Homo sapiens: one gene and its partner. The protein of the gene in region 1 purifies or fractionates together with the protein of each later gene. This does not show direct contact. Each region holds a gene or a part of one and is shown on either strand. Other genes may lie near its edges.

Region 1 (15,670 bases):
TTTTCATTGAGATTTAAGAGCACTAAAGTTTTAGTTTTTTGATGTTCATTTGTTTTCTTTTGTTCTAAGGTTGTTGCCTATAGTTTCAAGCCTGAAAGGGCCTTTATTATCTTGATTTTGTATAGATATTTACCCATTTAGTATTTCCCTTTTTTTTTCTTCTCTCTACTTATGTTTCAGGATTACCATAGACAAAAGGCTGAGGCCCCAAAGCCACTTATTTGTATGTGGTCCTAGAATTAAGGAAGCTGCTAAGTCTGTCCAGCAAAACCTCATTGTGCCATTCTGATATCCCTGACAGAATTTTATGTCAGACATTTCAAGAAGGGAAGTGAATTCACAAGATCCTTAATTCTTAAAACTAAAATGTTTTAAAATATTATATAGTCGTGTTCTTTTTCTGCTCTGCTTAGCATCAAAATAATTCATTTCCAACTTTTATATTAGTTTCTGGAGCACAATTTGGGGAGATTTTTTACTCTGCACAGCCTTTCAAATGTTCACAGTTGCTAGAGAACTGGAAAGTTAATAAATTAGCCCTAATAAGAGATTTCTTTACATCATATTTGATTTTCTCATCACTCCCTCCTAAGACAGCTGGAACTGCTCTATTGGGAATATAACTCATCCATAAAAAAGAATCATGACCCAAAACCACGGAAGAAAACACAACCAACCACGTTGCTCCATTTGCAATTTGGCTGTGAGAACCACTTTGGTTTGGGGGAAGCAGGAGGGTTTTGAGATAAGGTAGCCACAGGGCTGAATTCCAATTCTGTAACTACCTAGCTGTGACTTTGGGCAAGTCTACCTGTCAGAGATCCATTTCCTGAGACAGTACTATTAATACCCATAATATAACCAACAGTTACTGAGCCCCTACTCTCTGCCATGAACTTTGTATACCTGAACTCATTCAATTCTCACCATAACCCAATGAGGCAGGTACAATTTTTGTCCCTATTTTACAGCCAAGGAAACCAATGCAGAGAGAGGATATCTTGCCCAGTCACACAGCTGGAAAGAAGAGGAGCAGGACATGCAAGAACAAGTATTTTGATGATAGAGTCCATGAGCTTAATGTTTCTGAGTGTAAAAACATCAAGGAACATATTTGCTTGGTGCATTCAGAGAAGGAGGTCGATAAACGTTAGCCTCCTTCTGTCCCTGTGGTGACAATCTTCCTCCTACCTCTCACAGTGGCAAGCTCGCCGTCCACATGAGCCATGCGCTGCATGGCCGTAGCCCCCACACATATTGGCATGCTGACCCTCTGTCCTAAAACAGAAGTCGACAGATCTGTTTCAGCAACATTCCGGAGCATCCTTGGATACAGCTTCCATCTAGAATTAAAAAATAAAATAAAATAAAAGGCTTTAGAGTTTCAGAATCATAACCAAAACTTTGACATTACATTTTAGTTAAAAGAAAAAATATAATTGGATTTTTTCCAAACAAGCAAATGACTTCATAAAGCTAATGGAAAAGAGGCAATTTTACTGTTTGTTTGGTTAGAAAGTTAACAATTAGAGGATAATGAATTTCCCAAGCAATTATTTATTAAAGTATAACTAATACATAATAGTATTCACTCATTTTAGTCTGCAGTTTTGTGAATTTTGACAAATGCATACAGTGGTGTAACTGCCATGACAATCAAGATCTAGAAAAAGTTCAATCATTCCCAAAAAAGTCCCCATTTTCTTTTGCAGAGAAACTCTCCCCAGTTCAATCCCCTGACAACCACTGATGCATTTTTTCTTTGTCCTGATAATTTTGCTTTGCAAGAATATCATGTAAACAAAATCATTCAGTATGTAGCCTTTTGAGTTTGGCTTCTTTCACTTAACATAACGCATTAGAGATTTTCTCATGTTGTTGTACGTGTCAATAGTTTGTTCCTTTTGGTTGATGAATAATATTCCATCATACAGGGGTACTATCATTTGTCCAGTCATTCCCAAGCTAAAAGACATTTTGAATACTTACAGTTTGGGGGGAAATTCTAAATAAAGCCACTACAAACATTCACGTACAGGTTCTTGTGTGAACATAGTTTTCGTTTCACTTCCCCAATCTTGAAAATCAAGATGGTATACAAATGCATAGAGTTTAGATTAGAGTTTAAGAAGATATGCTATGTCTAGTTTGTCTTCTTTTTATGTGATAAACAGCAGCTTCAGGCAATTACTTTTAAAATTATAATTTGGTTTCTTCAAAATTATTTAGTTATATGCCATATTCATTAAAGTCTAATGATGAGGGAAGGTTTTTTATTAGTTTAATTTAACACTTTTCTCAAAAATGTTATTTGACAAAAACTGAAATTTGGGTGTTAAAAAGTTTTTGACTCCGGAAAATTATTTTAAATGAATGTTTCTGTGATTCTTCTGTGTTGGAATGAAAATTACCAATAAACCAGCAACCAAAAATTCACCAGTAAAATTTACAGAAGAACTAGTTCTCTTTCCTCCTGGCAAAATATATCTCTCCTATTTGTTTTGATTTATTATTCTCATTAGTACTGATTAAAATTGAAGAAAATACAGCCCTATTTCTAGTATGCATGAGTATAATAAACGTGTTGTTTAGGCACACATGCATATCTAACCAGCATTCACCTAGTATTTCCTAGATGTAACTCTACTTCCAGAAACAGCATGACTTTTTAGTAAATATAGTGAAGTATGATATAGTAATGCAGTAACTTAAAGAAAAAAAAAGAAGAAAAAGAAAAAGCCCTTAATCGAAGCGTGCTTCCTGTAGCGGAAGAAGAAATTCTGCCTTCTATTGCTTTGTGGAATAGCTAAGGGTCTGTAATCTAACCCTTCCTCACATAATAAAGTAAAAACATCCAGTCCCTGAAAAGCATAATAAAGAAGTTTTACTGTGTGATTTCTATGCTATTCCTTTGAACATTATAATTGTCATTATTTTATGCCACACCACATGCTCTGTTGCTGAAAGTCTTTTCTTCTTGACGGACCCTCACAGCATGATTCTTTGATCTCCATTTTGAAGGGGGAGAAGCAGAAGCCTTGAAGAGAGTTTTTATTACCAATCATCTCTAAGTGTGTTATTAGAATGAGAGAAAACGATCTTAATAGCAGCCATTGGCATGCCAGCCTTGGAAGGCATTAATATTTACTTAGAGCTAGAGAAACAATGAAAGCTTTATGACAAGAACAAGCAAATCTGCAGGGCAGCAGCCGTGTGTGTGTGTGTGTGTGTGTGTGTGTGTGTGTGTGTGTGTGTTCGCGCGCGCGCGCGCGCGTGCGTGCCAAAAGGGACATTTTTAAAGGTCAAATTCCCATTTATAAAGCAAAGCTGAATCCTTCCATCTCCAGACAGTGGCTTTACACTTGTCCACTTGGTGGCGCAGTCACTTTAGTAACTGCGGGCTCTTAATTTCCCTTAAACAGTATTTTCTGTTCTGAGGATAATACAGAGGCTTGTCAACCAATGCACAAAACGTAATTGCTACGTAAAATTAGATAAAATCAATGGAATGGGAACAGGCATGTTATCTAAAGAGTCCTCCATGTTTTGATATTTTTCAAATAGTAGTAACAACTATGTCAGATAGCTCACTAGCTTTCCAAGCCTTGCCCAACCCCACTCCAAATTTAAGTAAATTTCCCACAATCATACATAAAATAGCACCTCACTATATTCTCGGACTGTGCTTTCCTGGGCCTCCACTTTGGAAAAAGAATTGGTTCAACTGGCAAACAGTTGAACCAATTGAATAATAAACCGTTTTCAAAGGATAGAAAATGAGATGCCAGAGTAAAGGAAGCGGGGTAACGGGGAGAATCTGTTCACAGGAATTTTGGCCCACCCTCACATCTAACAGGGGCCTCAAATTTAACTTATAAAAAAATCAAATGATATATACACTCCTCACAAAGTAGCTGCCCTGTTGAAGGAAGACACCCATGCCTCACCCAGCTTTATAACTGCATGCTGTTTCTGAATCACACTAACTGGACATAGTGGATTCATGTTTTGTAAGTTGTGTAATCCTATAATACTGCATTCCAATTTTCTCCACATTAATTTTTTACTCTAAACAGTTAAAATATATAAAGCAAAAACACCTTATTCACCTATTGTGGATACTAGATAAATTATTTTGTGACATTTATGCCTATGAGAACACAATGTCACTGGTAACTTCATATCACTTCTCAAATATTAAAGTGAAAGAATGACATCACTTTTACCCATCTGTTATTTAAAAGAAAATGATGCCATCTTCAGTCTCAATAGGTAACGCAGCAGAAAAGAGTTTCCTTTTCTGAAATCATGAGGGCTTCTAAGTGTCGAAATTGTTTAATCATCTTCCATCATTGATAATTTCAGAAAAAAAAGCTACAACAACGTGAAGACCATAGTTGAGAAGGCTACTTTGAATAAATGTGTAAGAGAAACAAATTACTGTTCTTCGTTGAATTAATCCCAATCAATTCCAGCCATGCAAAATGTAGCAAGTTGACATTTACCCTGTTTTGTTATAACCACCGTAAGAAATTTTGTTCTGGGTGGTTCCATTTACTTGTCCTTTTAAACATTTTTTTCTACTGCCACAGTAATATTAGTCTGAAGTCTTACCCAAAAATATCTCCAAGCAACTGCTGGGTCACATGAGTGGTCCATGTCCCCAGAACTCCAAAATGTGATTATCAGAGCTGAGTACAGAGAAATAAAAGCTGTCACGGTGAATGACCTTTTGTTGTACTTGCGAGATGGGGAGGTGTATAAATTTCATAAATGTGTTTGAAATACTCTGGCTTTGTATCACAATGGGTTATCTGAGGTTTGATTGTTTTGCACTTTTCATTAGAATCAGAATGTGAAATTTCAGGTTGATTTCCTTCATGCCATCAACCCAAAGTCTCCACAACCCTGGCAGAATTTCTATTCTTAGTTTCACGTGACCAGCTACATGATGCAGTGTGAGGAATCAAGGTTCACCTAGCGAGTCATACAGCAAAAGAGGACACATTGCAAAATGTATTGCAATAAAAACTCAACTAGTTGATAATAAAATAGCATCAGCTGTCCTCCAAAGAAAGTTGATTGATTTTTTTTTTTAATTTAAAGCTGAACAAAAGAGAATGATCAAGGTTCATGGAAAAGGTGACACTGCAAATTCATTTTCATTATCTGTGTCCTATCCCTAAGTTACTCGGTACACACATAGGATGGGAATACTCACTTGAATACCATGTAATTCACATAAGGCATGAGGCACTTTTCCAGTTCATAACTTAGAAGTCACCAAGCCTTCTATGTCTCCCAAAGTTTCTACATTTTAAAGGGTTGCATAGGTGATCCATCTGCTTTGGGGCGCCCCTTTGCATCCTCTCTGAGACCTCCACTTGGCCAACTATTTTGGGCCCATTTTGCATCAATTCAACCCAACAGCATTATGGAGGCTGATATGCATCCAGGGGAATGTAAGTTCCTAGGGACAGGAACTTTGTCTGGCTCACTGCTTTGTCCTCAGCATGTAGTACACAGTGTAGCTCATGGAGACTCCTAATTAGCTCTAGTTAATTAGCTAGCATGCGACAAAGGGAATTAAGAAGTAAGGAAAGCTGTATACAAATGAAATAAATAATCACTTGAGCATTGGAGGTCTAGCAATGCTGAGACACTAACTCTATAAATCTGTCAAGGGTCTGAAATTTCCTTGGTTGTAATAACCTATTTGGGTTAAAGTGTTTTCAAGAGACCACTCATAGGCAAATTTTGGTGGACAAAGTTAATATCGGCCCAAGAAGGGGCATCTTCCAAGAGCAGAAACTTTTAAATGAGTCCAAAATAGTAAATAATGATGCAGAATTTTAAGCCCCTCTACTCTCAGTCAACTTCCCTTCCCATGACTTCCCTGGCATTTGTTGAGCTCATTTGGGTTCCAGGCAAAACCTGAGACAAAGTCAAGGCTTGAAAGGGTTGGGGAGAGGCCGTATCCTTCACCCCATTGCCATTTTCAGTCTTCTACATGGATTTGTGGGTGAATCAGTGCTGCCTACCAGAGACCACCTTGGCCAGGATAATTTTATTTCTCCTAATTTAAATATGGAAAACTGATTTTGAGTGATTTTGTTGTAGACTAAAGAAGAAATCAGGGAGGAAGGCTAATTCTCTCCCCCTGCATATTTTCTGCCTTTTTGTCTTTATCACCATCAATGAGTACCCACAATACCGATTGCCTTTACTAACAGCCATAATGTTAGATGGATGAGACTGAGTGTAGTGTAGTGAAGGCACTCCTCTCTTGCTCCAGCAAATAAACCATTTTTGTAACTGCTATAAAAAAAAACCCTTTGAAATGATTTTATTTCTTGTTTTTATTACAAACAGAAAACATAAACCATGTCACCCACCATCTTGTGCTTTGAAATATGAAAGTCAAAGGAAAACTAATTTGGGAAGAGAGATGAAGTGCTTTGAAGGAGAGATGAAACAGCAAAGTTGAAAGATTAATGCTGCATAGACAAATTGAAATCTAAAGTGAAAGTTTAGACAACAGTAATCAAAATGAATGATAACACGAAAAGCCAGCAGGAAGAAAACATTTGAGCCAACAATCCAGTCTGGTTCATCCGGATAAGATGGTTATCTGGCATTTAATGCTGTTTCCTACACCATGAACATAAGCATTTACTGTCATACTAAGAAAAAGAAAAGTCATCCGAATTTATCGCTATTTTTACATGTAGTTAAATTAATTGTTGTCATATTTCCAAGTGAAGTAACATAGGTTTGGCTTTTGCAGTCAGTTCCTCAAGATTCACAGGCTTGGAATATTTTTTAACAATTTAAAGGCCCAAGATTTCTTACAGCCCCAAGAACTTTTCCCTCTCTACTAAGCACAAATCTGAACAAATAATTACACACCACCAACGTAAAACTAGGAGATCTTATTTTGGTACGGTCTTTGTGTAATTTTAAAACATGATTTTAAAAAATAAATTTTCTTACCTGGAAAATGCTGCAATATTATCAGCCAAAGTTTCTTCATCATTTGCCCCAGACCTGTAATAGTCATATATAGACTTTGGAAGTACTGATTTAGCATGTTGTTCATAATCATTGATACAAATTAGCCGGGGGAGCATTTTCACAGGTTATTGCTATCCCAGATGGAGTTCGTTGTTTTTTTTTTTTTAATGTATTGCTTTCTACATCCTCACTGTTCTGTTATTTGTCAATTATTAATAGACTTTTGCCAAAGTTCAGATTTAGTTCTCTGTTGCTTACATCAAGTGAGCAAACATTATATGCTTAGCCTTTGAAATTTCATTTGTAGGCTATCTGCCAAAGAACACCGAAGTCACTATCTGCCAAAGAACACCAAAGTTGAGGTTGGGAAGGCAGCAGAAGGTGATTAGGTGTCTATCACATTAAAAAGGGGAAAGGAATAAGTAAAAAATTAAAGACTTAGAGGAATACCTGTATGAAACCACTCTTGGTTCAGTTTTGCCTAAGGCTGCTTATTGCACATGGTCTGTGCCTGTGCTCTTTGCTTGATACCCAGAATAGGCTGCCCACTCATTTTCTTTCCACATTTGGATCATGCACAAATCATGTAAACAAGAGCTTATGAACTGAACGGGGCATCCATGAAATATGGGGCATCCGTGAAATTCAGGGCTTCTGCACAATATAAAATTTAGCTGATTACAAACATAGACATTTGGCTTTAACATGGAACATTAAGGCCAAATTGACAGCTAATTGTTTTATTCATTCTGTATATTTGAGGTTTACAACATGATATTATGAGATACATATACACAGAAAAATGGTTACAGTAGGGAGGCCAATATAATATATGTATCATCTCACCCGTAATTACTTTTTTGTGTGTATGACAAGAACAGCTAAAATCAACTTATTTAACAAAAATTCCTAATATGATACAATTTTATTAACTTTAGTCCTCATTTTGCACGTTTGCTCTCTAGACCAGGGGTCCCAAACTCCCCAGCATGGACTGGTACTGGTCCGTGGCCTGTTAGGAACCAAGCTGCACAGCAGGAGGTGAGCAGCCGGTGAGCAAGCTTTACAGACTGAGCTCCGCCTCCTATTGTGAACTGCACATGCGAGGGATCTAGGTTGCGCCACTCCTTATGAGAATCTAATGCCTGATGATCTGAGGTGGAACAGTTTCATTCCAAAACCATCCACCTACCCCCACTGCCCATGGAAAAATTGTATTCCACAAAACTTGTCCCTGGTGCCGAAAAGGTTAGGGACCCTGTTGTAGATTTATGTATCCTACGTGTCTACTATTTTGTATCCTTTGACCTATATCACCCCTTTTCCTCTTCCCTGCTTCCCACTAGTGGTATTCACTGTTTCATTCTCTAGCTCTGTGCATTTGAAGTCTTTTTTAAAACAAAATCCCACCTATAAGTGAAATAATGCAATAATTTCCCTTTTGTGCCTGGCTTATTTCACTTAGCATAATGTTCTCTGGGTTCTACTGCAAATGACAGGATTCCCTTCTCTTATAAGGCTGAATAATATTTCATTGTGTGTATATCTATACATTTCCCTTATCCATTTGTCTCTTAATGGGCATTTAGGTTTACCATTAATTCTTTTTTTTTTTCTTTTTGAGATGGAGTCTTTCTCTGTCTCCCAGGCTGGAGTGCAGTGGTGTGATCTCGGCTCATTGCAGCCTCTACCTCCCAGGTTCAAGAGATTATTCTGCCTCAGCCTCCCAAGTAACTGGGACTACAGGCATGTCCACCACGCCTGGCTAATTTTTGTATTTTTATTTAGTAAAGATGGGGTTTCACTATATTGGCCAGGCTGGTCTCAAACTCCTGACCTCAAGTGATCCAACCACCTCGGCCTCCCAGAGTGCTGGGATTGCAGGTGTGAGCCACTGCACATGGCCTACCACTAATTCTTAGAGTCTTATCTTGCCCTGGAGAGGGTATAGGGAAGTGCTATTCCAAAAGACCTGTGGTCTCAGTCTATAATTTCACTCAATCATGGAACACCTGGGGAAGATTCACATTAGTAGGATATGCTTGAGAAAGCAATGATTTTAACTACAGTTAGACCTGAGTTTCAATCTAGGAGCCGCCACTTAAAGCTGCTTGCCAGTTGTTCACTATCTACATTCCAACCACCTACACCTGTAGGAGAACTTGCTCTTGAACTTGGAGCCTGCTTTTTTCATAAACATAGCATGCCAAATAGTATAGTTCCATACCCTGTGGAACAGCCCTCAATCACAAGCCCAAGAAAGTTCATTCTTCTGGTGGGATTACTCCTAGGATTATGTTCTACATTGCAGGTTTCAGTTATCCACAGTGTGAGCTGGTTGATAATCTATGCTGTGTTGGCTATGTTCCTTTTTTGTTTGTTTTTTGTTTTGAGATGGAGTCTCACGCCGTCACCAGACTGGAGTGAAGTGGCGCAATCTCGGCTCACTGCAACCTCCGCCTCCCAGGTTCAAGCAATTCTCCTGCCTCAGCCTCCCGAGTAGCTGGGATTACAGGCTCATGCCACCACACCCAGCTGATTTTTGTGTTTTTAGTAGAGATGGGGTTTCACCATGTTGGCCAGGATGGTCTTGATCTCTTGACCTCGTGATCCGCCCAACTCAGCCTCCCAAAGTGCTGGGATTACAGGCATGAGCCACCGTGCCCGGCCTGGCTGCCTTCCCTTCTAATCAGACTTCCCTACTCCTCATTGGTGCTCCCTTCACCTCCCAAATAAACTCCTTGCATTTGAATGCTTGCCTCTCAGTCTCCTTTTGGTGAAACTCAAACCAAGACAAAGAGAAATATTCATCCCTACCCTGAGGAGTGACTGTGAGGACAAAGGATATATCATCGCTTAAACACCTGGCATATAGTAGGCACAGTTGACCTTTGAACAAAAAAAAGGGTCCACTTATATGTAGATTTTCTTTAGATTCTTCCACCCCTGAGACAGCAAAACCAACTTCTCCTCTTCCTCCTGCTCCTTATTCTACACAATGTGAAGATGACAAGGATGAAGAGTTTTGATGTACCACTTACACTTTATGAATAGTAAATATATTTTCCCTTCCTTATGATTTTCTTAATAACATTTTCTTTTTTCTAGCTTGCTTTATTGTAAGAATACAGTATATAACACATGTAACATATAAAATATGTGTAAGTTGATTTTGTTATTGGTAAGGCTTCCAGTCAACAGTAGGCTACTAGTTGTTAAGTTTTGGGGGAGTCGAAAGTTTTACACGGTGGGTCGGTACCTCTAACCCCCATATTGTTCAATGATAAACTGTATTTCATTAATATTACCCACCCTCATCTTCTCAATATACTTTACCAACACATTTTTCCAAAAGACTTTTGTTTAATGTCAATTATATAAGGACAATTCCCTAATGTACGAGAGATTGGACAAAGGGATTCTTGAGCTTCTGGAAGGCCATTGCCATTTTTCTTCAAGTAAGTTAATCCCTTTGAGTATTTCTTTGCTAGATTTGCAATTAGTCCAGTTTATTTTCTACACCCCCAAGAGAAGTGTCTTTCATAACTAATGTATATTTATATTATCAGATCTTTTTGAAAATTGCCTTATCCCATGCTTCATGAGGCTTTATATGGTAGAAAGAATAGGGTGTAAAATCATATCTTACAGTGGGTAAATACCCTTTGAGTTTATTTTGGAGAAGGAAAATCGTCTAAGATGAAGAAGAATACTAAGGGGTTCAGTATGTAATCTGTGACTTAGTTTTGACCTGTGGCCACAGAGTGAACACAAAGCACGGTCACCTGTTATATGAAATTCCCATGCTGTGGGTCACCAAAAGGAGCAGGAGAGAGGATATGGATCAAATCTATTTTTACTACTGACAAAGCAACTAGAAACCAAAGATGCAGGCTCCATAGCAGCCTATTAGGCAAACTGGGAATGAAACCAGAACCAAAAATATAAGCCATTAGGTCTTTCCCAGCTGTAATGATATAGTATATAAAAAATAAAGGGTTTTAATTTAATCGAAGGGTCATATGCTGTTAAAATTGACATAGAATTTTATAGTACATAGGTTTATTCTCAAAGTTCACAAATGCTTACTTTTTGCATCAATGTAGTGACAGATGAAATGACATATTAAAATCGCTATTAGGATGTGAAAAATCTGCCAATAAGATAAGCAAGTTCTAAATAATTCAGTTTCATAGTTAACAAAATTATTATGAAAATGTGGTCAAAGGGATCTTAATTATGGCTTATAACTCATTCAAAATGTAAAGATTAAAGCATGACCTTTTATCTGCATATTTATGTGCAAATTTAGCATTTATTAAAATAATTAGCATCCTGCAACTAATGTGATTAGAATGAAGAGGCAATCTAATATTGTTAATCAGGTCAAGTCCCGGTGAAACTAAAGAAGACACATAAGGGCCATTGGTTCTTAAAGTGTGACTTTGAACCAGCAGCATCAGCATCACCTAGGAAGTCATTAGAAATGCAAGTTCCAGGCGTCATCCTAGTCCTACTGAATCAGAAACTCTACAGCTATTTGTGCTGTAACAAGCCTTCCAGGTGATTTGATGCACAACATTGTTTGAGGACCATGGTTTAGGCGAGATGGAATGTAAAGGGGGACTTTTTTCTTAAGAGGCTTATTCTTTTTTATAATTTCAACTTTTATATTAGATACCAAGGCACATATGCAGCTTTGTTACCTGGGGATATGGAATGACGCTGAGGTTTGGGGTACAAATCCTGTCACCTAGGTAGTGATCACAGTACTCAATAGGTAGTTTTTCAATCCATGCTCCCTTCCCTCCCTCCCCACTGTAGTAGCCTGCAGTGTCTGTTGTTCTCATATTTATGTCCATGTGTGCTCAATGTTTAGCTTCCACTTCTAAGTAAGAACATGCAGTATTTGGTTTTCTACTCTTGCATTAACTCACTTAGGATTATGGCCTCCAACCATCTCCATGTTGCTGCAAAGGACATTATTCCATTCTTTTTTATGGCTGTACAGCATTCCATGGTATATATGTACCACATTTTCTTTATCCAATCTACCACTGAAGAGCACCTGGATTGATTCCATGTATTTGCTATTGTGAATACTGCATCAGTGAACATATGGGTGTATGTGTCCTTTTGGTAGAATGATTTATTTTCCCTTGGGTATATGCCAGTAATGGTATTGCTGAGTCGAATGGTAGCTCTATTTTAAGTTCTCTGAGAAATCTCCAGACTGCTTTCCACAGTGGCTGTACTAATTTACATTCCCACCAACAATGTATAAACATTCTCTTTTCTTCACAGACTGTCCAACATCTGTTGTTTTTTTTGACCTTTTACTAATAGCCATTCTGACTGGTGTAAAATGGTATCTCATTGTGATTTTGATTTGCATTTTTCTGATGATTAGAGATGCTGAGAATTTTTTTATGTTTCTTGGCTGCTTGTCTGTCTTCTTTTGAGGAGTATCTGCTCATATACTTTGCCCATTTTTTAATGAGGTTATTTGTTTCTTGCTTGTTGATTTCTTTATGTTCCCTATAGATTCTAGATATTAAGCCTTTATTGGACGCATAATTTGCAAATATCTTCTCCCATTCTGTAGGTTGTCTATTTACCCTGTTAATAGCTTCTTTTGCTGTGCAGAACCTTTTTAGTTTAATTATGTCCCACTTTTCCATTTTTGTTTTTATTGAAATTGCTTTTGGGAACTTAGCCAAAAATTTCTTGCCAGGGCCAATGTCAAGAAGAGTGTTTCCTAGGTTGTCTTCTAGTAATTTTATAGTTTGAAGTCTTACATTTAAATCTGTGATCCATGTTTAGTTAATTTTTGTATATGGTGAAAGGGGTCCAGCTTCAGTCTTTGGCATATGGCTGGCCAGCTATCCCAGGACAATTTATTGAATAGAGAGTCCTTTCCCCATTGCTTGTTTTTGTCAGCCTTGGCAAGAGTCAAATGGTTGTAGGTATGTGGCATATTTCTGAGTTTTCTTTTCTGTTCCATTAGTCTATGTGTCTGTTTTTGTACTAGTACTATATTATTTTGGTTACTGTAGCTTTATAGTATAGTTTGAAGTTGGGTGGTGTGATGCCTCCAGCTTTGTTCTTTTTGCTTAGGATTGCTTTGGCTATTCGGGCTCTTTCTTGGTTCCATGTGAATTTTAGAAGTTTTTGTTTTTGTTGTTGTTGTTGCTGTTGTTTTTTCTAATTCTGTGAAGCATGACATTGGTAGTTTGATAGGAATAGTGTTTAATTTGTAGATTGCTTTTGGCAGTATGGCTGTTTTATGATATTAATTCTTCCAATCCATGAGCATGGAATGTTTTTCCATTTATTTATGTCATCTTTGATTTCTTTCAGCAGGGTTTATAGTCTCCTCGTACAGCACTTTTACCTCCCTGATTAGCTGTATTACTAGGTATTTCATTTCTTTTGTGGCTATTGTAAGTGGAATTGTGTTCTTGCTTTCACTCTCATCCTGGACATTGTTGATGTATAGAAATGTGACTTATTTTTATACGTTGATTTTGTATCGTGAAACCTTACTAAAGTCACTTATGAGTTCTAGGAGCCTTTTGGCAGAGCTTATAGGATTTTCTAGGCATAGAATTATATCATCAGTGAACACAGATAGTTTGATTACTTCTTTTCCTATTTGGGTGCCTTTTTTTTTTTTCTCTTGTTTGATTCCTCTGGCTAGGACTTCCAATGCTATGTTAAATAGACATGGTGAGAGTGGGGAATCTTTGTCTTGTTCCAGTTTTCAAGGGGAATGGTTTGAACTTTTGCCCATTAAGTATAATGTTGGCTGTGTGTTTGTCATAGATGGCTGTTATTATTTTGAGGTATTTTCCTTCAATACCTAATCTGTTAAGGGTTTTTGTCATAAAGTGATGTTACATTTTATCTCATGCTTTTTCTGCATGTATTGAGATAATCACATAGATTTTGCTTTTAATTGTATTTATGTGGTGAATCACATTTATTGATTTTTGCATGTATTTCCTACTTGATTGTGGTGTATGAACTTTTCGATGTGCTGCTGGGTACGGTTTGCTAATATTTCGTTGAGAATTTTTACATCTATGTTCATCAGTAATATTGGCCTGAACCTTTTTATTTCTGTTGTGTCTGTGCCAGATTTTGGTATCAGGCTGATTGTGCTTCACAGAATGAGTGAGGAGATTCTTCTCAATTTTTTTAATAGTTTCAGTAGGATTGGAATCAGTTCTTCTTTGCACATCTGGCAGAATTTGGCTGTGAAACCATCTGGTTCAGGTCTTTTATTTTCTTGGTATGTTCTTTATTACTCATTCAATTTCAGAAGCTGATATTGGTCTGTTCGGGGTTTCAATATCTTCCTAATTCAATCTCAGGAAATTGTGCGTTTCCACGAATTTATCCATTTCCTTTAGATATTCTAATTTGTGTGCAAAGAGTTGTGCATAGTAGTCTCTGAGGATCTTTTGTATTTCTGTATTTTTGTATTTTGTATTTCTGTAGTTGTAATATTGCCTCCGTTATTTCTGGTTATGCTTTTTTGGATCTTCTCTTTTTCTTTGTTAGTCTAGCTGGTAGTCAATCAATCTTTTTTTTTTTATTTTGAACAACCAACTCTTGGTTTCATTGATGTTTGTTTTGTTTGTATTTTTGCATCTCAATTTCATTAAGCTCTTCTCTAATTTAGCTCTTCTTTTCTTCTGCTAGATTTGAGTCTAGTTTATTCTCTTTTTTTCACTTCCTTTAGGTGTAGAGCTAGTCTGTTGATTTGAAATATTTCTAACTTCTTGATGAAGGCACTTAGGGCTATAAACTTTCCTCTTAACAATGCATTGGCTGCATCCCAGGGATTTTGCTAAGTTGTGTCCCTATTTTCATTAATTTCAAAGATTTTTTTTATTTCTGCCTTAATTTCAATGTTTACTCAGGAGTTATTCAGGAGCAAGTTGTTTAACCTCCATGTATTTCAGTGGTGTTGAGAGATTATCTTGATAATGATTTCTGGTTTTATTGCACATAGTCTGAGAGTGTGCATGGTGTGATTTCAATTCTTTGAATTTATTGAGACTGGCTTTACGACTGAGCATGTGGTCAACCTTAGAACATGTTCCATGTGCAGATGAGAAAAATATATATTCTGTGGTTGCTGGGTGGAGTGTTCTGTAGATGACTATTAGGTCCAACTGGTGAAGAGTTGACTTTTTCCAGAGTTTCTTTGTCGGTTTTCTCCCTTGATAATCTGTCTAACACTGTCAGTGGGGTATTGAAGTCTCCCCTATTAGTGTGGGGTTGCTAAGTCTTTTCTTAGACCAAGAACTTGCTTAATTAAACAGTGGGCTCCAGACTGGGTGCTTATATATGTATGATAGTTAAGGCTTCTTGTTGGATTGTACCCTTTATCTTTACGTAATGCCCTTCACTGTCCTTAATATTTATTGGCATAATGTCTGTTTTATCTGATGTAAGAATAGTGACTCCTACTCTTTTTTGTTTTCCATTTGCGTTGTAAACCTTTCTTCATCCTTTTACTTTGAGTCGTTGGTGTCATTACATGTGCAATGGGTCTTGTGAAGGACAACAGATGATTAGGTCTTATCATTTTATCCAGCCTGACACTCTATGTATTTTAAGTGGGGCATTTGGCATATTTGCATTT
Region 2 (15,554 bases), on another chromosome or scaffold:
TCTTAATGATATCTGCAATGACCCTATTTCCAAATAATGTCACATTCTTCTTCTTCTTCTTTTTTTTTTTTTTTTAAGACAGGGTCTCACTCTGCCGCCCAGGCTGGAGTGCAGTGGCACAAATAGGGCTCACTGCAGCGTTGAAATCCTGGGTTCAAGTGATCCTCCTGCATCAGCCGCCTGTGTAGCTGGGACCACAGGCATGTGTCACCATGCCTGGCTAATTTTTTGATTGTATTTAGAGATGGGGTTTCGCCATGTTACCCAGGCTGCCTCCTAAAGTGCTGAGACTACGGGCGTGAGCCACCACACCCAGCCTAACGTCATATTCTGAGGTTTAGGATGAATGTGAATTTTGGGGGGTCTTGATTTAACCCACTAAACTATCCTCCATCACAAATCCTGTCCACATAGGAGAGAGCTGAGGTTTCCCTGAGTTTGGAGGATGGGGTCTGGCCCCTCCTGCATCATCGCCTTGTGTCCTCCACCTTCCTCCCTCCAGCCTAGCCGCCTGGGCCTTCTCTTCGCTCCTCCAGCTGAGAGAGGCATCCATTCCAGACCCCTCTCCTCTTGGGCTGGAATGTTCTCCACATCTTCAGATGATCCCTCTCTCAGAGGGTTCCCCCTCGGCCTCCCTGGTCTTTCTTCATTGCATTGTCCTGCTTTGCTGCCTCGGCCAGTGGTCGCTGTTGGAACTTGTCTCCGTGCAAGCTCGCTGCTTCTCTGCCCCCCACACCCCCAGGCCATGGCTGCCGTGAGGTTGGGGACCTGGTTGCTCTTGTTCATGCAGCAGCTCCAGGATCTGGCTCAGCGCCTGGTGCCAAGCAGACTCTCAATAAACATTTACTGAATAAACAAAAGGAATCAATGACCAGCCCCTCATGAATGCCCAGCGTCTCCTTCTTGAGAAATTTCCAGCAGAACAAGGAGGTCAGCTGTGGCCAAACTAGCGGACCCTTTGTCCTTCCTTTACAGCTGGATTTAGGATACAAAGCCTGAAAAACACTGCCATCTAATGGACTCACAGGAGAAGTGTTTTGTTTCTAAATTACAACCACATATTCAAACAATGGGCTGAAGGACCAAACACGCCGTCCACAGGAGAAAACGTTAAAGGAGCGGTCCTGGCCTGCACTCCACTCTGCACAGAGCACGCAGATGATCCCTAGGGTCTGTCTCAGACGGAAGCCAGATATTTAGTGTTGCCAGATAAAACACAGGACGCCCAGTTAAATTTGAAGTTCAGATAAACAATGAGGAACTTTTTAGTATAAGTATGACCCAAATATTGCATGGAACGTATTTATGCTAAAAAGTTACGCGTTTATCTGAACTTCAAATTTAACTGGCAACTCTACAAGGACTGGGTGGGGAGGGTCCTCTTTGGCTGAATGGCTCTCACAAGGGCATGTTCCTGAGAGGCACAGAAGATAAAGCTGTCAATTTGCAATTGAGAGGGATTTACACCAGCCAGAGAACGGTGGCTAGCAGAGCGCTGTCCGAGGTGCTGAATTCAAAGACAAGCGCACTAAAAAGAATGTCCTTTGGAGGTTCCAAGAAAATTCAGACCTACGTGCCTATCATTAAGAGCAGGGGTCTCCAACACCCAGAAACACATTTTTCCCCATGGAGAAACACACCCACACATTTTTACCCCATGGAGAATTTACTAAACTTTTTTTTTTTTTTTGCGCAATGGAGTCTCGCTCTGTCACCCAGCCTGGAGTGCAGTGGTGCGATCACGGCTCACTGCAGCATCAGATTCTTTGGGCTCAGGTAATCCTCCCACCTCAGCCTCCCAAGTAGCTGGGACTACAGGTGCATGGCACCATGCCTACCTAATTTCTTTGTATTTTGGGGTAGAGATGGGGTTTTGCCATGTTGCCTAGGCTGGTCTCAGACTTCTGGGCTCAAGCAATCCACCCACCTCGGCCTCCCAAAGTGCTGGTATTACAGGCATGAGCCACCGTGCCTGGCCTCATTTTCTTCCTTTATACATTTTTGTTGTTGTTGTTGAGACAGTGTCTCACTCTTGTCGCCCAGGCTGGAGTGCAGTGGTATGATCTTGGATCACTGCAATCTCTGCCTCCTGAGTTCAAGCAATTCTTCTGCCTCAGCCTCCTGAGTAGTTGGGACTACAGGTGCGCCCCACTATGCCTGGCTATTTTTTGTATTTTTAGTAGGTGGTGTTTCACCAGGTTGGCCAGGCTGGTCTCGAGCTCCTGATCTCAGGTGATCCACCCGCCTCTGCCTCCCCAAGTGCTGGGATTACAGGTGTGAACCACCGTGCCCAGCCCTTTTATACATATTTATATGGCTGAAATCAGACTTCCCACCCCACCGCCCCCCTGCCCGGCCCTTACCGATACTTCATGCCTGTGCGCTGGGCGGTGCAGCCGTCCAGGGAAAGGCCGTGCATGCGGAGGAAGCTCTCCATGTTCCTGGCCTGGGCAGCCGCCCGCACCTCCCGCAGCCGCTGCAGTTCCAGCGTGTCCGTCTGGCGGACGGGGTGCAGGGCCCATTCAGAGTGGCACCTGCTGCTCACGCTCCGCAGACTCTCGCTGTACGTCATGGACAGCATGGTGCCGCCTGGCTTGGGAGCTGCCACTGTCCAGACGGTGATGAGTTAGACAGTGTGCCAATGCCCCACGTGCCCCAGGCTGGATGGCTGGCCCTGGGGCAGGGGGCAGCTGCAGCGAAACATCCTTTAACTAGTGCCACCACCAGGTCTTGGTGTCTAGGAGTGGGACCCGGCCCCTGGATGTAAACACCTCTTGGCATGAGATTCTCAGTCCGCAAAGCAGTGCTTGCCAGGAACTCTGGCTAAGCTGCCCTTTTCTGTCCCCTGCATCTGTGAGACAAGCACAGGCAAAGCTGCATTCCAGGCAGGACAGCTGCACCCCAAGTGTCCAAATGAAAACGGGAGCACAGAGAGCATGCAGAGCCTGAGCCCCCCAAATGCTGAAGACCAGGGTTGCTGTTCCGTGGTGACTGCGGTACCATGTCATGGTGGTCTCTTGAGGTGGTTCCCAGGGTAAAACTGGGTCAAAAGCTGTCCCTGGGAAAGCAGCGCAGGGCACACCTGTTGCTGAAGTAAACTCTCCTGTAATTATGCCAGGGAGGCACCTCACCCCCGCATGCCAGGTGGCCCCAACATGGGAAGGTCCTATTTGCTCTTAGCCTTGTAAAGGGAAATGCTATCTATACAACACATTCCCTGCTTGTTGAACGCATCATTGCACCGCAGAGATCTTTGGGCTTCATGCTTTTTGCAAAAGAAAAACTGAGCAGAATGCATTTAAGCAGGTTGCGGAGGAGAGTGGCCTGGGGAAATAGGCTTAGTTGGGACAGGGGAGTTTCAAAGTTTCTATGTGAAGAACCACTGAAATATAGCTGAAATGATGAATGCACATTCTTGGAAACTAAAAGCAATGTAAATGTCCATCAGTAGGGAAACTGGTTACCTAAGTGACAGTCCATCCACATAGTGGGAATTTGTGCTGCTGTCAAGAATGAGGCATCTCAACATAGTGAGTGAGTGAGCCCTGAGAGATAGTGGACAATTAAAAGGCCAAGGGAGAAAGCGTGTGTCCAGAACGCAACCACTGGTGTTAATTCATGTGCACAACAGTGAGTGGACCAGTGAGGGCAGCCTCGGGGCTGAGTCCTCACCCTGCAGAGTCTGTGACAGCGCAATGAGGACATGGAGGCAGGCTCAACACAAAGGAGGTCCCCAGTCCAGTGACCCTCACCCCACCTGACTGCAGCCTCGGCCATGGCCCAGGTGGCCTGCACTGCAGCTCTGCATCATCACCAGAGAGAGAAGGTGCAGAGGGGAAGTCACCATTTCAGCTGGGTCAGCTGCACAGTGGGATCCTGGAACCTGGCCTGGGAGCTGGAAAGGAACCAGCACTGTCCCCACCTTCTGCCCCAAGAGAGGAAAAGTTCGATTATCCCTGGGAAGGAGCTGGGAGGGCTATCCTGGGAGCTGAGGCAGCTACAGAGGCTTTAGCACGGTCCTTGAAGGGGGTTGAGATGTCCTGGAGTTGCCCCAGGCTGGGCCTTTCCTGGGGTGAGCTCCAGGGGCCAAAGGAAAGACCCACAAGGGGCAGGAGTTTGTGATGAGCCCCATGTGCTGGGGTCCTTCCAGAATGGGTGACCAGCCTGCTGACCTTTCACTGCTCTGCCTATATGTGCACCCAGAGAGGGGGGCCACCTCCAGGAGCCCCACAGCTGCCTCTTTCATGGGGGTTTCCCTGCAAGTATTCGTCTGTATCTTATTTGCAGGGACCTTCATTCATGTCTGCCCTGTTGTGCCCAGCATGAGGCCTAGCTCAGAGCAGAGCCTACAAATGCCTGTTGCATGAACATGCAATTGAGGTAGGGAAGGTGGGCTCAGAGAAGAGCTAAAGAGAGACCAGCAGGCAAGGAGCCCCCGAGGAGCCCCTACAGGGAGCTGGGTAGCAGTGTCCACACAGGCCTTGGCCCCACCACCCTGGTCAGGGCTGGATGGCCCCCTCCCTAAAGGCGAGCAACCAGTCGTCCTTGGGGAGCCTGCTGTGCTGTCTGCACCTCTGCACCTCTGTCTGATGGGCATGGCTCCCGGGGGTGGGGGGGCTGCGTTTCCCATCCTACCCTCTGTCCCACACAAACCACACCATGTGCCTCTTTCCTGCTGTGATCTGTCTCCATGGCGCTCGCCATCATCCACCTTGCTGATTCCTTTCTAGCTGTCCTGTGTGCTGAATTCACTCCCCTGAAGGTTGAGTCCAGGAGGGCAGGGACCCTTCTGCCTCCTGCCACTGCCACTGCCCCCTGCTCAGTGCCCATGGGAGTGCCCCTCGTGTACAGAGGAGGGACTCAGATACTTGTAGAACAGCAACCAAGGCCCAGGCTCCAAAAGGCCAACCAGGGCTATACCTGGGCATTTCCTGGCAGTGCCAGGCAGCTGTTGGTGGGGGCGGGGCTGGCTTCCTGCCTCAGGCCCAGTGGCTCTTTGCAGGTCGTCCTCTCTTGCTGGGGGGTTCCCATGCCAGGAGTTGCATTCACCACTGCTCATTTCTATGCTGGGAGGGGTGGTGGCTGCTGGACCTCTGGACGCTAAAGCAGGCGGGTACCCTGGCATGGAAAGCCGTCTGCCTTCCAGGAGAATCGCTCTGGAGGGCAGAGAGGCCCGGACTCCAGGAGAGGTTCACCTTAGGAAATGAGGCCCTTGGCACCCACAGACAGCAGCACCAGCTTCCCTTCCCTGCCTACTGGCCGGCCACTCCCTTCCCTCCATGCGCGTGGCAGGCAGCTGCTTCTGAGGTGGCCATGTGGCTAGCTGCCAGTCCGGTGTGGGGCAAATGGGGGCCAACCCTCACTTCCCTGAGGTCTGTGTTTAGAAAGAAGGCCAGCTGGGCAGGCTGTAGCCCCAGGGCTCTTTCTGAAAGGCAGGACCAGCCTCAGACACGCAAGTTCCCTGCCTGGCCCGACCAGGCTGAGATCAATAGCCATTAGCTTTCAAGACATTACTCACAAAAAGCAATCCGGGTCTGGTTTGGCTCTAGAAATATAGCCAAGGCCCCGGGGCTGGAGGACGGGGTGGCTGAGTGCCCAGCTTCTGGACAGGGGCAGCTCTGCTTGTCACCTGCTCATGGTGTGGCCCAGGCAGGCACCTTGACCGCTCCCGGCCTCAGCCTCCACATCTGTGAGGTAGGCTGGGCAGAGGCCTGTTGTACCAGGCTGCTGTGGGCTGCATGAGATGAGGCTTTGGACAACTGGGTGGGAGTTGGTGACGCAGCCAGAAGACAGTCTGTTGGGGGGCGTGGGATAAGACACCAATTATGATAAATGCTGTGGAAAGAAAAATCCACCACCAGGGGCCAGCAGGCAGGGCGGGAAGGAACTTGTGACCACAGGTTTGAGTGAGAGGAGTGAGCCACACAGACACCAAATCTCCCTAGAAAATGCTTAAGGGAAGAGAACACAGATGTGAATAATCGCCCCCTTCACAACAAGATGGTGGAAGGCTGAGTTTGGGGATGTGAGTGGGAGAGGGGAGAGAGGGCAGGACAGAATGGGTTTTGTGGCCAGGATTTAGAGGGCGTCCCTCCCTGTGGGGGCCCGCTTGCAATCTTTCCTTAGAGCTCATGTTGCAGCCCTGGGAGCAGACCTGCAGGTGGGAGCCCTGCGGCACGGAGGGAGCCCAGAGCCTCTTGCTACGAGCTTGTCCCCATGGTGCCAGGGCAGGGCTTGGGCCAGGGAACTTGCGGGCACAGAAATGGCAGCCTTTGGCATGGGGTGGTGGGGTGAGGAGCAGGGCTGGTGCCATGAGGAGCCCATGGCCGCTGGACTCCCCTGAAGGTTGGGTCCAGGAGGGCAAGGACTCTTCTGCCTGCTGCCACTGCCCCCTGACCAGTGCCCACGGGAGTGTCCCGTGCACAGAGGAGGGGCTCAGATATTTGTAGAACAGTAACCAAGGCCCAGGCTCCAAAAGGCCAACCAGGGCTATACCTGGGCATTTCCTGGCAGTGCCAGGCAGCTGTTGGTGGGGGCGGGGCTGGCTTCCTACCTCAGACCCAGCAGCTCTTTGCAGGTCACCCTCTCTTGTGTGGGGGGGACTCCCATGCCAGGACTCTGTACAGCGGGGGCTCCCTGTGGTCCTGAAGGCTCATGACTCTGGGAGGGCTGCCCCAGGGGAAGAAGGATAGGTACAGGCAGAAGGCAAAGAGGCTCTGCCCGTTACCAGCGGTGCCTGGGGACAGAGGACACCTCTGGACTCCCTCACACTGGGGCTCTATTCTGGGCTTTTGCCGAGACTCTAGCAGCGTCAGGTCCTTGGACGAAGGGCCCCCCGGTAAGACACTGCAGGGAGGAGAGAGTGGCCCCACTGCCGGGCTCCTGCCTCAGGGTCCCCACTTCTCCTGTGCTCAAGAGCACAGTGACCCCTGACTTCCAATTCAAAATATCCCAAATCCCGGCCGCTTTCCAGAGTGAGGGTCTCTGAGCCCTGACACTCCCTCACCACCCTGGTACCAAGAAAAACGAGCCCCTCCTCAATAGCCATTGCTAATTACGTGGAACCCACAAGTTCTTTCCTGGGCTGGGCCTGCCTGGTGCAAATCTATTCCTGTAGATCAGGGGCCCAGGGGAATTCACGTGAATTAACACCGTGACATGGAAAAATGCAAGGAAGATGTTAACCTCATTAAGTCAGTAGGAATCACTACCTCACCCCAGACTCCTCTACCTGGAATTTCTGAATTGTTCTGTTTACTGAAAGCCAACAAAGCATACAACCTGAGATTGAGAAGGAACCCTGAGCATCTCTTCTGAATGGTGACACCTGTCCAGAGAGCAGAGAGCCCAGCCAGAGTTCTCCAAAGCGGAAATGGAAGGGGAGCTGCTACCATTCCGGGGTGCGGCTCTACAAGACACGGCATTGCTTCAGTGCAAACACAGAATGATTTTCGCTCAAGGACAATCAGCAAACTGAGGCCCAAACAAGCAGCCCCTGGCTCCCTCAGCACGTGCTTCCTGCACAGACATTTCAGACAAGACCAAACCTCCCTGACAGCGCTCTGGGCAAAACTGGAAAATGCTGAATCTTAATCAATGGTGAACACAGCGAGGTACGAGCTAGACGCCCGTGTCTCCGGCAGATGGGAAAACAGTCAGCCTTGGGCAGGTCTGGGCTGTGAGCAGACTCAAGCGAGAGGTGCTGCCCGGCTGAAACCTGCCGCCCACCACCCCATCCATCACGGTCATTCCAAGTTTACCTCAGGCTGGCTCTTTTTTAAGGTCTTCTGCTTTGCAAAAACACGGAGGGTCTAATTCCGGATCAGACAAAACCACCCCAAAATATGGTCTCCTCTGTTATTTTTCATTCCCGCGGATGCGTGCCCCCAAGCGGCATCTCCACTAGGAAGGTAGCGGCTGAAGGGAGGACTCACCTGCCTTCGTGGGGGCGTCTGCTCGTTAAAAAGGCCACAGTCTGGTTTATTAGGGATCACCAGACACTCTAAGGATCTGGCACAGCGGCTTTTTCATTAGGGAGTGTCACTGCAGGACGTCAGAAGCAATTGGTGAATGAGATGAGTCCCACCAGAGTCGAGTTTTGAGGCAGCGAGTCCATTAGTTCTATTAGGGCGTTTTCATCTCAGTGAAAGAGGCTGAATTATTCACGAGTGCCTCTTCCCCTAAAAGCTCGGGAAGTGCAGTTCCGTGCTGCAACCTGGCAAGGCTGACTCCCGGTGCGTGGGGTTGGGGTGCAGCCCAAGGTGAGGGGGAGGTCCTGCCCGTCCCTCAGGCCTACCCTTGCTGCCTCCACCATCCCCGCGTGCCAGAAACACAAACCTTTGGACCCACAGGTCGAAAGGGGCAGGCCTTGCTCTTTGGTATCTGAGTGCGGGACACAGAGCCTGTGGCTTCCGCATACCACTCAACTCTGAACTGTGTCTGCAGCAGGGGAGCTGGGGGCCCCGTCGTATGGGGCCACCACCCACAGCCAAGGGGGTCTGGAGAGGCCTCTGCTCAGCACACGCGCATGCTCCTCCTGTCCTCTGGGGATACACCCGAGATGGGTATATCTGATACTACCGGTAGCTATAAATGGCAGGAAGGCCCCAGAACCTGCTATTTGGACTCCACACTGCCACTCACTCCAGGCAGGGACACAGGAGCCCTTCTCCACGGCACATGTCCTGACCTGGGGTTTGGGAAATGCTTTGAGACTAGGCCAAACAAGGCTGAGCTCTGGGATGAGGCTAAGTGCTGAGCCCCAACCCCAGGGTCATGACCCCCAGGGTCACTGCGTGTCACAGGATGCCAGCAAAGTCCCAGCGTGACATCATCTTCCGGCTGAGAAAGCGCGCCAGTGAATGTGGGATTTTGAATGGAGGCAGAACCGTCCCCCCATGATGAATGAGCAAACAGTGGTAGCTGCCATGGGGGAAGGTGGGGGACAGGAAATCAGTGCCCCAGTCGCAGTGTGGAAGGTAAATGAAGTGGGAGGCTGGGAGAGCACGTAGAGTCTGGAGGTGCCTGGCTGCGGGTGACTAGCTGCGAAGGCCTTGGCAATTGAAATGGTTTGTCCCCAAAGGCCCAAGCCCACTCTGTCAGATCCCCACATGTCGCCCTGGTCGGGGGGCCTGCGCCTCACTACTGGGTGGTAGCTGCAGCCTAACATGCTCCGAATGAGGCCCTCTCCTTCCCTGGGTCCACTGCTCCTCTCTGTCCCTTTCTGTCTCAGCACCTGCCCATCAGTGGCCAAGCCCTGTGGACGTGGCTTCTGACGTCCTTTTTTCAGGCCCTGCACCCCTTCATTCTCTCTCTGTGCAGTTCCTGGAGCTCAGCCGTCCTGCACCTTTCCTGGGCACTGTCTGGTCTCCTTGCATTAGCCTCTCTCTTCCCTGTCTTACTCCCTGCTACCAGGCTTCCTTCCTAGAGCAGATCTCTGACCCCTGCCCTGCTCAAACACCATAGATGGCTCCCCAGTGCCCTCTGAGTGCATCTGTGCCCCATCGCTAGGCATTCGAGGCCCCCCACCAACATCCACCTCTACAGCCAGCCTCTCTTTATTCTCCATCATGTCCCTGATGGCCCAGGCTGGGTAACTGTCACTTCCTGTTCTCTGTGCACACCTCTGAGCTGTGGCTCAGGCTGTTGTATCTACTGGAATATGCTTCCCAGCCTCTGCGTTGAATCCTGCCCAGCCTTCAAGGACCAGATCCAAGCCCCTGCTGCCTTCTCCGTGAAGTCTTCTTGGCTCTCAGCTGGCTGTGGCCCCTCCTTCCTTGGACCCCAAATGCTCTTTGGGCTTCTCCTGTGACGTGCTCTGCCTTCTGGAGATCATCAGGGCTATTTGAGACCTGGGGTACATGGAAGTATTGCTCCCAATCCTTCACCCCTCTCTGTACCCATGCCCTTTGCCATGTGACTTTATAGCTCCTCCCACTGGTGGGGGCAATATATTTCCAGCCCCTTGACTGTGGGCTGGTTCCTGAGACTTACTTTGGCCAAAAGCACGTGAGCAGAGGTGACAGCGCTCTGACCCCAACCATAGGCCGTAAGAGACCCTGCATGTTTCTGCTTTTCCTCTGGTACTTTTGCCATGGGAAGGACATGCCTGGGGTAGGCCCCAGTTAAGCATGGGAAGATGGAGGACATGGGGATCCAACTTGCAGCTTGGAGACAAACCCAGCCAAGCCAGCTTAGACGAGCTGCCTGGTCAACCCGCAGACACGGGAGCAAGGAAGAGATGCTGATTGCTGCGTGGCACTGAGTTTTGGAGTTGTTTGTTATGCAGCACTTGGTGGACAGCTGATTGGCACAGTGTCCTATGCCAATTCCTTGCCTGGGAGCTGCATGGGGGCAGGGCACATGCCTTGAACGCCTCTGCCCTGTGAGAGGGCCAGGCCTAAGTAACTGAAAGAACCATCCAATAGCCATGTTTAGTGGTATGCTTGGTGTGATGAGGGTGCCCTACTAGGAGTGGCCCCCAGCCTGTTAACAAACAAAGACCCTAGCCCTTAGAGGTCATCTCCAGAGCCCCCACAAGAGACACCCAAGTGACCCCCTGGAGATCCAACGGGTAGGATGGCCAGAGCCTGTGGGCACCAGAATTGGGGCTGAGAGCCTAGAGGGTAAGCTTCAGAGCTTCCCTTGGGGCCAGGAAGGCCACCTGGAAATGAAGGTTCTTAAGCACAGGGATCCCGGCGGGGGGGACAACATGTTGAGCCTGTGGGGTTTTGAGGGCCTTGAGTGGGCTGGAAGGCTCTCACTTGGTCACTGGATAATTTACTTGGCCCCTCCTAGGGGCAGGCCCTTGGAGCTGGATGGTCTGTACCTGTGGGCAGCCCTTTTGAGCTGGCAGGTCTGCACCTGGGATTTTCCTGCCTGCTCATCAGACCTCACCCCTTCCCTTCTGAGGACTGAGGCTGCTCCCGGCTCTCTGAGGATGCAGTTCAGGTACATGTTTTGTTTCACTGATGAAATCCCCTGGGATGAGCGGCATATGTTTGTTAGGATCTGTTATACCATGTGTACATACATCACAATACAAACATTTCATCCAGGGAAAGCATTTGCAAGCCGGAGTTCAGATTTAACTATCTTAAGCAAAATCTTATCTACCAAAATTTCAGTAGGATCTAAGAGTTGGCCATGTCTTCAGAGCTCCCTGTAAGGAGCAGGACCTCCGAGGAGGCACTGAAGGCGTGGCACAGATCACTCTGAGCATCTAGGTCCACGGTCCCCATCAGAGGTGCTATGGCTGGCAAACGGGGGGGGGGGTGGGGAGTGGGGGCGCGGGGAGAGAAAAGCTACATGGAAATACATTGCCACCTCCATGACCACTGCCTGGCACATTGGCAACGATCCCCAAAGCACTGTTACCAGATGTCCGGGTCCGAATAGAGAGACCTCCCGGCCTGACCGCCAAGATGCAGCAATGCATACCAGGGACCTGCTGCCAGAAGCCGTGCCAATTCCCCAAACAGTCCCAAGGCATGGGGAGGCTGCTGCCCATGGGCTCCAGGCAGCCCTGACATTTTACTTCCTAGGGTTGGAGGCTGCACCAAGAACATGCATCCCCTGCCTTACAGGTGAGGGAGAGGCAGCCCAGAGAGAGGAACGGGTCTCCCCAAGAGCACCCTGCAGGGCCCTAAGCCTGGCATCTTGATGTCACATCCTGCTGGGGCACAGTCTCTCGCCAGGTGCCCGGTTTGTTAATTCACCAACAGAAAAACATATCAGAAAGATGTCACTGATCCACGTCGTATCAGTACTGCACACCCCCAAGCAGGCATTAACCTTCAATGAGCCTGAGGAGCTCTGTGAGTTCCAGATCAGGTCAAACCCACAGGCAAAGGGGGAACGGATGGGCTCGCCACGTCCTGTACTCTGATAATGGAAGCAGGGCAAGCTGGTGACCACAGGAAGACATCTCCCTCACTGCCTGATGAGTGAAGCTTTAACGGTAGATTTGGCTGAGAGCTTGGCAGTCATCAAAAGCCCATTTGCTCAAATCAAAGCAAACTTCTGGCAGACCAACACATACAATTAACCTGACTTCACATTTTCCATCAGGACATTGCACAGCATCCTGTGGGTAGGCACAGAGGGTGATGAGCAGAGCCTGGGGGTCTCGGGGGCTTTGGCTTCAGAGAATACACCAGCACACCCTGCTCGGCAAGGGTGCAGTCCTCCCACCCGCTCCCTGGCCTTCGGCTCGCTGGGTTTTAGGGAGAATGAAGACTCATTACCTGTAAAACTGGAGCTGTCTTTTGGGACTCCCATACCGAGTACTTCGGACAGCAATGGAGAAAAGAGAAAAAGGAGAAAGGGAGAGAAGAGAGAGAGTCCACAGTTGGCATCAACCCCAGCAGGTGCAGGTCAGAAAGAACCACCAATGTCCCATGCCCCCGGGCCCCCACCAGTCGCCTGCTCAGGGCAGTCTCTGAGGAAGCGCAGCCGGTGCCAAGTGCTCTGCAGCAGCGCCACCCGGTGGCCACGGGGCAGAGACCCGGAGCCAGTTTCCTGGACACCAAGGGCTCCTTCCATGCCAGGCCCTGTTTTCCGTGGTGAACCTCCGAGTGAGGGTTGGTTTGGATTGAATGTGCTTCAGGACTTGCTTTGCAATATGCTTGTGGGCAATGGCTGAAAACCCTCCAACCCAGACGTGCAGAGCACCCGCGTGCTGGCAAACCCGCACCTGCCCGCCTGGCTCTTCTTAGGACAGACACTGCCTTTCCCTGTGGCTGTCACAGACACGGGCTCTGGCTCAGGCCCCAGTGATTATCCGGAAAGGTCTGGCTTCCCAAGACTGATGGGCTGCTGGGGTACTGCCTGTGCCTGCGTCTTTCGTGGGTTCTATGCTCTGTCCCCAGAGGCTCAGCTCTCACTGAACGCCCTCCGCAGCTGTCGCTGATGTTCAGCGCTGTTTATGGTGCAGACAGAAACACCCAGGGCTGCAAGCGGAAGTGAGTTCCACAAGGAGGGGGTCAGGATGCCCCAGGAGCATTTGGCCGCCCCCACTCCCTCCAGTGTTGGGAAACCGGCAGACGTGGTTCCCCAAAGGCCTGCAAGGTCGTCATCCTCGCTCAGGAGAAACTGGCAGGGCCACAGGGGCTGCGATGTATAAAGTGGGAGGAACAGGATGCCGGGGTTGGCCGTGCACTCACTGTCCGGCCGCTCTGTTAACCTCAAACGAGATATTTCGGAAGGGTCAGGGACAAGAAAGGAGTCTACTCTGGCTCAAACGCCCTGGAAAAGTTTTGGTTTTTCTTTCCCACTTGGGTTTTTAAAGCCCCTGCTCCTTTCTTGGAGAAAACGCTCACCAGCGTGCACCTCAAAACCCCGTGGAAGGCAGAAGCCTGTGGGCCCTGCTTGGGCCCTTCCACCTCCAGAGGGGAGGACAGTGGCCTTGGGAACCCGTCCTCGAAGCAGGACTGACCCTGGGAGGGGGCCTGGGTGAGGGGGCAGGGGGTCACCTGTAGATCATCCCGGGGGAGCCCGTCTGCCGCAGCGAGAGCCGAGCCGGGGAGCCCGTCGTTGATTCTGGATACATGGAGCCAGCCTCACTTATCCAGACTTGCTCGGTTTTTTACAGTGGGAAAATTCTGGAAGAAAAGCAAAATAAGGGAGGGGAAGAGGGTGGTGGTTAAAAAAGATCAACCAGGTTTGGCCGGGAGACTCTGGGATCACAAAGGCTGAGGAGGCTGTCTGGGTTCAGGGCATCGGGGAGCCCCTCAGCAGAGAGACAGACAGACAGACGACAGACAGACACACGGCAGGCAGGCAGGTCCACGGGCTCAGGAGGGGCTGGAGAGCAGGTGACAACTGTGAGAAGGGTTTCCACACTCCATCACTCCACACTCCCACCTTATATGTCGTGGAGGTCCTTCCACACCACCCCAACTGTTGTTCTGAAACCGTAGGTGTAGTTTCTGCTGCCCACATGGTGCAGAAGAGACCGCCCAGGGGGCATCTGTGTACTTTCTGAGCTCCTGACTGCACTGCTGTCCCCCAGGGTCATCGCTGACACTGTCCCTTGCCCTGACTCCAGCCCAGTGCAGCTTCCTGGTGCTGCCATTGAGCTCCTAAGTCAGGCAGCTTCTCAGATGCCACTGATGTCCGCAGCTCCTGGGATTCCTGCCCTTGGGCAGCCCCTGTCCTGGAGTGTGGGCTGCACCTAGCAAGTCGCTTCTAACCAGCAGAACACGGCAAAGGTAATGGCAAGACTGTCACTTCTGTCTTGCTAGAGACTGTCCCTCCTGGCTCTGATGAAGCAAGCTGTGGTGTTGGAGAGGCCCTTGGGGCAGGAACTGAGGGCAGCCTCGGGCCGACAGCTGGCGAGAAGCTGAGCCCTCAGCCCAACAGCCCAAAGAAAGGAGTCCTTCAAACGAACGAGGGAGCCTGGAAGTGGATCCTTTCCTACCAGAGGTTTCCAAGGTGAGCCCAGTCCCGGCAAGAACCTCGACTGCAGCTCAGGGGTCCCAAAACAGCAGACCCAGCCCTGCTCTGCCCCAATGCCTGACCCACAAGAACCAGGAGATCTCACTCTGGGCAGTTGGAAGCTGCAGGGTTTGTGATGAGCTGTTACAGCAGCATTGATAATGAGTATGGCTGCCAATATCCAGCCGTCCACCCACATCTCTGGCTGCCACCCTTGGGCTGAGCCACTGCTGTCTTTCACCTGAACCCCTGGGTCCCCTCCCAGTGGCTCCCCCCACCGCCTCCTGAACCCTCTCAGCTCTGCACGCCTTCCTCCACCTGGCTGGCTGCTGGTTGGGGGCTTCTATTTCCAAAGTGAATCTGGTCCCATGCTCTTTCCTCCCACTCCTAGGCACTGCCCCCTCAGGCCCCTATGCTCTGCCGCCTGGCCCTTGACCCAGGCCCCCGCCTTCCCAGCACGCTGAGCTCACACTGTCTGCGGATGCTTGCGCTTGCGGCTCCTCTCCTACTGGCTGCGCCCTTGCTGCAGTGCTTCTCAGCGCCATGAGCCCCGACTGTGGGGCTCAGGGGTCCCTGCTGCTCCCCGGCCGACACCACGCCCTTGCTGCCTGCACACGGGTCTGTGGTGCCCCAGTTCCCTCTCTGGGGGGGGTGTGTTCCAGGAGGGCAGTGGTTCTGTGGGTCTCACTCACTGCTGCACCCCCATGCCTGGAACAGGGCTTGGCTTCTGGAAGGACAAATGACCCCTGATCCAAAATCACGTGGTCCCACACCCACAGGCAAAGGGATGGTCTGGGCTCAAAACAGCCCCGCCCATCCACAGCAACCCATGAAGTTGTTGGGAAACCTGACACTTAGCCAAGTGGCTGATTGGCTTTGTTTTTCCCACTCTTTTTCCCCAGAACAGTGACCTCCCGTCACCAGGAAGCCGGCTTCCTCGGAAGAAATCAAAGTAAGGGAGGGGATTCCCAAACAACCTCTGTCCCTGGGGTCAAGGCAGCACAGGTCTAGGTCCCCCTAATAACGGAGGTCTCCTCTGAGTGAGCGATGTGAGCACATGTGTAGACCTGCTGGTAAAATGGGACCAGCCTGGAATACCAGCACTTCGGGAGGCCGAG

Evidence for each region.
Region 2: the proteins of HAO1 (region 1) and KCNAB2 purify together in Homo sapiens (affinity purification with mass spectrometry; 3 studies listed by BioGRID and IntAct, with this or other methods). This does not show direct contact.

What each region holds. Positions count from the first base shown.
Region 1 is NC_000020.11:7,933,293-7,948,962, forward strand, and holds the start of HAO1 (2-Hydroxyacid oxidase 1), read right to left. Parts: upstream 7,167-15,670; 5' UTR 7,131-7,166; coding exon 6,994-7,130; intron 1,344-6,993; coding exon 1,192-1,343; intron 1-1,191. UniProt on the Homo sapiens protein: Broad substrate specificity (S)-2-hydroxy-acid oxidase that preferentially oxidizes glycolate.
Region 2 is NC_000001.11:6,038,564-6,054,117, reverse strand, and holds the start of KCNAB2 (voltage-gated potassium channel subunit beta-2), read right to left. Parts: upstream 8,231-15,554; 5' UTR 7,935-8,230; intron 2,608-7,934; 5' UTR 2,582-2,607; coding exon 2,364-2,581; intron 1-2,363.